Linked DNA regions of Homo sapiens. The protein of the gene in region 1 purifies or fractionates together with the protein of each later gene. This does not show direct contact. Each region holds a gene or a part of one and is shown in the gene's direction. Other genes may lie near its edges.

Region 1 (3,500 bases):
CACGGAGGAGTGGGTGCTCACCTCTCACTCGCGCCCTGTGTAGGTTCCACAAGCTGGAGAAGTGGCGGCGGCCGTTCTATCGCGTGCTGCAGGTGTACGAGAACGCGTCGGTGCTGCTGCCTGCCTTCTACAACACGCGCAACACCGACGTGTCCATCCGCGTCAAGTACGTGCTGGACGACTTCGAATCGCCGCAAGCTGTCTACTACTTCCATCCGCAGTACCTGGTCAACGTGTCGCGCTACTGGCTCAGCCTGGGGGTGCGCGCCAAGCGCATCAGCACCGGCCTCATTCTGGTCACTGCGGCGCTGGAGCTCTGTGAGGAGGTGCACCTCTTTGGCTTCTGGGCCTTCCCCATGAACCCCTCGGGCCTCTACATCACTCACCACTACTATGACAACGTCAAGCCGCGTCCCGGCTTCCACGCCATGCCCTCTGAGATCTTCAACTTCCTGCACTTGCACAGCCGAGGCATCCTCCGCGTGCACACGGGCACCTGCAGCTGCTGCTGATGGCTGCCAGCCAGGCTGCCCGGCAAGCGGCGCCCCCTCTCCTGCTGTCCCTCCTGGTGGAACTGGGAGCCCCGAACCGGGCAGCGTGGGGTCCTGGCGTTCAGGCTGTCTCTCCCTCCATTGTTCAGCTCTGTACTTGGATCCTGGGGTAGGGAGGCAGGGTTAGGAACCGGGGCAGAGTCAGCTCTGTGCTGAGCCTCCTGGCCTGGCCCCCACCGGTGCATCCGCCCAGTGCGTCCACCTGCCCTGGCTAGCATGCTGCTGGGCCACACCCCAAGATCAGGGGCCCTGGGGACGGCAAGTGAATAAAGCACATTTCCACCCAATTTTGTCATCCGAGAGAGAGCACAAACTGCAGGCCCTTGTTGCAGCTGAAGGAAGACCCTACAGAGAATGGAATTGAGAGTGGAGACAGGACACTTCACAGGACACTTGAGCACAGTCAAGATTTTATTCACACTTTTGGTTCCTGTGTTTTATATCGAAGACTTAGCTATGAATTGCTATCTAAATCTCAGAGCTTAGAAGCCAACCCAGTGACTAGACCTTCCAGTGAAGAAAGTGATCTCAAGAGGTCCAGGGACTTAACAGCCAAGCCACACCACCCGACAGGTTCTTCTGTGACACCGAGAGATCTAACCCAAGGCCTGGGTTATGTCTTAGTCGAGACATCATCATCTGAGAAGCACCACATCCTTTCAGACACATCCTCGGACACACATGCGGTCTTGGTGCCCCCAGGTTCAATCCTGCGTTAGCTCTTTTGATGAGAAGGAAATAAACCAAACCAGCCACTTGCACTATGGCTTCCAAGCCAATGTTATTGACTCAATAAGTGCTTAGCAATTGGCTTCCTCTTTTGTCTTCCTATTTTCAGCTCCATTTAAACCAGGAGTTATTTATAAAGACCTCTTCCTCTCATGTCTCTGAATCCTGCAGAATCCTGCTGTATCGTGTTCCTCAGTCGGAACCATAGGCTCTGGGCTGGAAAGCACTGACATGTCAGGTGGTGAGCTTAGCAGAGAGAAACGAGTTGTGGCCTCCGACACCAGCATCACTGAGGCTTCCGCTGTGAAGGCGGGACTTCTCACAGCAGACCCCAGGGCCTGGGCTTGGGGCAGTCAGCTGGGCTTAGGCAGAGAGGGGTTCACATATCATTTCACATCTGAAATTAATTCCCTTTGCTTCTCCCTGTGGTGTTTCCACCATAAATGGGATGGTGTCTAAGAGACACTGTTGGTGAACTAACTGCCTTAGAACTTAGCTTTGTGGAATCATAGGATGTTAGTGCTGGGAGGAGGACTTCAGCCTACCTGCCTGGCAACCTGTCTCCCTCCCTCCTTCCTTTCTCCCTGCCTCCTCCCCTTTCTCCTTCCCTCCCTTCCTCTTTTCTTCCTCCCCTTAAACATTTCTGGAAAGCCTATTCTGCTTTGGTCTGTGGTTGGACTTAGGAAGACATAAGGATAAACAAAGGCATTATCTGTGTCTTCTGGGGGTGCAGGGCCCAGAGATTATAGACCCAGTCCCACGTGCTGGGTGCTCTGGGAGGGTTAGGAGCTGTAAGAGTCTATCAGGGAGTGGGATCTGCTATCCAATCACCTCATTTGACAGGCCCCCCGGCTGAGCCAGTCAGGGACGTGGAGAGTGCAGGCTTTATCCCAGGCCTCCAGGCTCCTGATCCAGGGCTCCGTTCTTGGCCAAACTTTTGTGTCTTGGCTTGGGCTTCCTGTGGGGGGGTTGTTGTGGAACCTGTGCCCTGTGCACAACACTGTTCTCAGTGCTGACTCTCACCTGCATTCTGAGCTCTGGTCCTGGTTGGGAAAACCTCAGGTGGCTCTGAGTCTCAGTCTGCTGGTCAGGAATGTAGGGGAGTAGCCAAGGGGATGAAATGATCCCAAACACCTGCTAAACCAGGAAGAACTGCAAAGGACAGTGGATGGTTATTACTTGCTTGAGCTCTGCCTATTTCTCCCAGGGAGGGAATTTCTGGGAAAGATTCCAGTTACCTGAGATTTCTAGCCACTGCATGGTTAATTGAACCCAGTTCTTGAAACCATGGAATATAAAAACTAGAAGGTTCTTAAAGACCATTTTGTTCCACTTTAGGAAACAGGCCCAGAGCAAAGATGTGACTGGGTCAAGTCATGCCTGGGGCTCTACTGAGTGCCTGCTGTGGACAGAGCCCTCTACTGGAAGCCCTCTGGGTACTAGTTATGTTCCAGATGGGCAGTGTTTGGGGGAGGCTCCCTGGTGACACAGACATCAGGATTCCCACAGCTGAGGGTGTTGCAGGTTGGAATCTGCCCCAGCCAGGGCCCTCGTAGGAGCTGAGGATTGGAGCATCGGGATCCAGCCCACAGAGGAGTTGGGACACCTGGCTGCTGGCCATATTCCTGCCTGTGGGTCTTAGGGCCAGTCCTTCCTCTCCCTCAATGTCTCAGTTTCCTCATCTCTACAACTAGAAGCTTTGTAAAAATCTTCAGCGTCTGTACAATGTCCTTATTTTGGGGGGACATTCATGATGAATGGATCTAAACCATAATTAATATTTCTCATTATACTAGCTAGCATTTATCAAGCTACGTTAAGCACTTTCCCTATATTATCTCCTGTAATCATCATGAGACCCCTTTGGGTAAGGAGGCTCCCATTGTACAGATGAGGAGACAGAGGCTTAAAGCAATTCCAGGACTTGCCCTTGGTCAGGCACCCAATGGAGGGAACGGCACCCAATGGAGGGAACTGCACCCAGATCTGTAGAGCCCCAAAGTCTGTGCTCCAAACCTCTGTCTTAGCTTCCCAGACAGTGACACCAGAACATGAGGGATCCTGACCAAGATGCCCCTGCAGGATAGTACGGGGCCCTCCTCCAGGGACAAATGCTCTAGGAGGCTGTCATCGTCCGGGAAGCAGCCTGTGCTTATAGGTGCCTCTCCCTAACCCTGCCGCCTACAGCAGTAGCGACTTACCCACAGTGGCACTGGAGGG
Region 2 (3,500 bases), on another chromosome or scaffold:
CGGCAGCCGAGCTGCAGGTAACTTGAGCGCCGGCTGCTAGGGAGGCTGGGATGGCCTCCAGGTTTCAGACAGGGCCCTGGACTGGGGGCTTTTATACTCATTTCATCTAGTCCTTGAAACTATGTGACAAAGGAAGGATGGTTGTTATGCCCAGTCCACAGATGGAAAAACTGATGCTCAGAAAGGTCAAGTTACCTGCTGAAGGGCACACAGCTAGTAAGTGACTCCAAAATAGGCGCCTGGCCGACACCAGGCTGCTTCTCTGTAATTAATAGTGTTTACTTGGAGGCTCGGGGTCATGACCACACCAGCTTACATTGACAGCGCCTTTCCAGTCTCTCCAGCACCAAGCACATCGAACTTGGTTACAGTGAGCACTTAATAAATGCATGGTGTGGATTCTGTCATTACTTTTCCCTTTTCTGAGCCAGATCAAGGTCCGGAGGCTCCTAAGTGGCAGAGGAGCCAGCCGCAGATGGGCTCACTGTACAACAGGGCGTTAGATCTGTGATGCTCTCTGTCACCCATTGGAGAAGCCCAACGTCCAAGGGCTCAGCCTCTGCCAAAGGCTGCCCTCTGGTGGCTGCTTGGTTCTTGAGGGTCCAGAGAGAATAGCTTGCTGGTTCCTTCTTTCCAGAGCATCAGCTGGCATTGCAGAGGGATCAGCAGAATGGCCACCACCGATCTTGCCGTTTCTTGACATCACCCAGGAATGCGTGGCCAGGCCTTGCTTCTCTGCTGAGGAGGGGCTCCCGCAGAGTGTCATCTCCCTCCTTCCTTACCTTGTGACCAGCCGAATTTGACCTGTTGTCCGTTCCTTCTACTTTCAGGAAGAACACTAGGTCCCTGCCCTTTACCCTCCTCCAGCTGACAGGTGTATATGGGTCCGTCTTGGGACCTTGCGCTTCATGTGCTTCCTGGCTAGTGGGGGACACCAGCTAGAAACAACCCTGTCTCATTGCTGAGTGCTTTGGGCAAAAGCAGCGGGCCCTGGGAGCCAGGGGTGGGGAGAAGTCAGGGAAGGTGAGTCTAACGATAGATGAGCATTTCCAGGCCAACTGGGTGTCCCAGGCGGAGATGCAGGCCGTGCTAGGGCCCACGATCAGGGTCAGGGGAGCCTGGCCTCCTGCTGGTGCTGGCTGCCCTTCAGCTCCCAGAGAAACTGGCCTGAGGCTCAGTGGTGCTGCTCAGACCAGGATGGAGATCAACAGCTGCTGTTAGATACCATCTGGCACTCTTTTCCTGCTCTGAGGCCAGGAGGCTGAGGGTGATGTTGTTTGTGCATTATAATTTGGTTTGTTCCAGCCGATTTCTCAGCCTGAGGGGCCCCCGCAGTGCCTCAGCCCCCTACCGTGGCCATGATGCCAACTGTCTGTGCCAGGAATAGCGGAGAAGGCACAGGAGCCCTGAGCACATCAGCCCAGCATGGCCACCAGGTTCCCCCCAGGCATCCTATCACCACTGCTTCTGCTCTCTTCTTCCAAGCAGAGGAAGAAAGGCTTTTCCTGCCTCCCAGCTGCACAGCTGCCAAGGTGGGGGGAGTTTAGCAGACTCAGCAGCTTGTAGTACACAAGCCCTGGGCTTAGATTCAGAGGACTGTAAGCCCCTTGGAGCTCTAAGTGCTGGGATTATAAGCATGAGCCACCACGCCTGGCCAAACAGCCTCTGTGTTCTAAGTACCCAAAGTTCAATTAAGATCTTTAGGAAATATATGGATTCTCTCGAGTTTTTACAGATATTTCTGATTAAATTCTAATGTGAATTTGGCTGCCTTCCTTGTAAAATGGGCTTGGCTCGTTCACTCACCCCAGCTGTGTGCCAGAACACAAATGAGACATAGCCCTTGCCCTCACAAGGGACTGTGGTTCCTCTTTTTTTTTTTTTTTTTTTTTTTTGAGACAAAGTCTTGCTCTGTCGCCCAGGATGGAGTGCAGTGGCATGATCTCAGCTTACTGCAACCTCTGCCTCCCAGGTTCAAGCGATTCTCCTGCCTCAGCCTCCTGAGTAGCTGGAATTACAGGCAGGCACCACCACGCCCGGCTAATTTTTGTATTTTTAGTAGAGTCGGGGTTTCACCATGTTGGTCAGGCTGGTCTCGAACTCCTGACCTCATAATCCACCCGCCTCGGCGTCCCAAAGTGCTGGGATTACAGGCATGAGCCACCGCACCTGGCCTGTGGTTCTTTTTTTTTTTTTAATTTGAGACAGAGTCTCGCGCTCTCGCCCAGGCTGGAGTGCAGTGGCGCCATCTCGGCTCTCTGCAAGCTCCACCTCCTGGGTTCACGCCATTCTCCCACCTCAGCCTCCCGAGTAGCTGGGACTACAGGCACCCGCCACCACGCCCGGCTAATTTTTTTGTATTTTTAGTAGAGACCGGGTTTCACCGTGTTAGCCAGGATGGTCTCGATCTCCTGTCTTCGTGAGTTGCCCGCCTCGGCCTCCCAGAGTGTTGGGATTACAGGCGTGAGCCACCGCGCCCGGCCTGTGGTTCTTAACTTTAAGTCACAGAGTCCTTTGAGAACAGATCAAAAACCATGGACTATCTCCCAGAATAAATGGGTATATATGCATATTTTTAAAATTATGTCTGACATTTAAAGACGTCCTGGCCGGGCATGGTGGCTCAGGCCTGTAATTCCAGCACTTTGGGAGGCCGAGGCAGGTGGATCACCTGAGGTCAGGAGTTCAAGACCAGCCTGACCAATATGGTAAAACCCCGTCTCTACTAAAAATACAAAAATTAGCCGGGTGTGGTGGTGTGCGCCGGTTGTCCCAGCTACTCGGTAGGCTGAGGCAGGAGAATCACTTGAACCCAGGAGGCGGAGGTTGCATTGAGCCAAGATCACACCACTGCACTCCAGCTTGGGTGACAGAGCGAGACTCCGTCTCAAAAAAATAAAATAAAATAAAATAAAATAAAATAAAATAATAAAGAAGTCCTGGCCCCCTGAAGCCTGTGTTCTAAGTAAGAATCTCTTCCTGGCCTGCCACACAGGGTTGTTGGAGAATAAGTTGAGGTAAAGGATGAGAGTTCATTCAGTAAACTCATTTGCACAACCCAGTACAAGCATAACATATTATATTCATCATTATTGTTACTATTCCTTTGTTATTAGCGATGTCACCCAGGAACCCAGCACTAAATCAATTTGATTCATTCTACTCTGGGACAGAGAATGTCTTGTTCCCTGGTGTCTGGAAATGGGGTTTTCTTCCCATACTCCAGGTAACTTAGGGAAAAGCACGCCAGGTTTCACAGTGTGGTTCTAGGCTAGCCCTGCTGGGGTACAGAATGCTTCCAGGCTAGTCCCCAGCAGAGTCTGAACTCAGAGCTGTGAATCAGACACTCTTCCATTACTTCTGGGGGCCTGAGGACCTTCCCCTTCCTTTCTAGGACCCTCACGCCAAAGGCTGTTTGGGCCTGAGCCCCATTTTCTACCCCATTTCTCCAGCTGAGATGAAGCTCAGAAGCATTCTTCTCTTCTCTCCCAGTTTCAAAC

The links. The genes of interacting proteins can lie anywhere in the genome.
Region 2: the proteins of ST8SIA5 (region 1) and ECE1 purify together in Homo sapiens (affinity purification with mass spectrometry; one large-scale study listed by BioGRID and IntAct). This does not show direct contact.

Annotation. Positions count from the first base shown.
Region 1 is NC_000018.10:46,677,054-46,680,553, reverse strand, and holds part of ST8SIA5 (alpha-2,8-sialyltransferase 8E), read left to right. Parts: intron 1-43; coding exon 44-512; 3' UTR 513-3,500. UniProt on the Homo sapiens protein: Involved in the synthesis of gangliosides GD1c, GT1a, GQ1b, GP1c and GT3 from GD1a, GT1b, GM1b and GD3 respectively.
Region 2 is NC_000001.11:21,252,464-21,255,963, reverse strand, and holds part of ECE1 (endothelin-converting enzyme 1), read left to right. Parts: coding exon 1-17; intron 18-3,500. UniProt on the Homo sapiens protein: Converts big endothelin-1 to endothelin-1.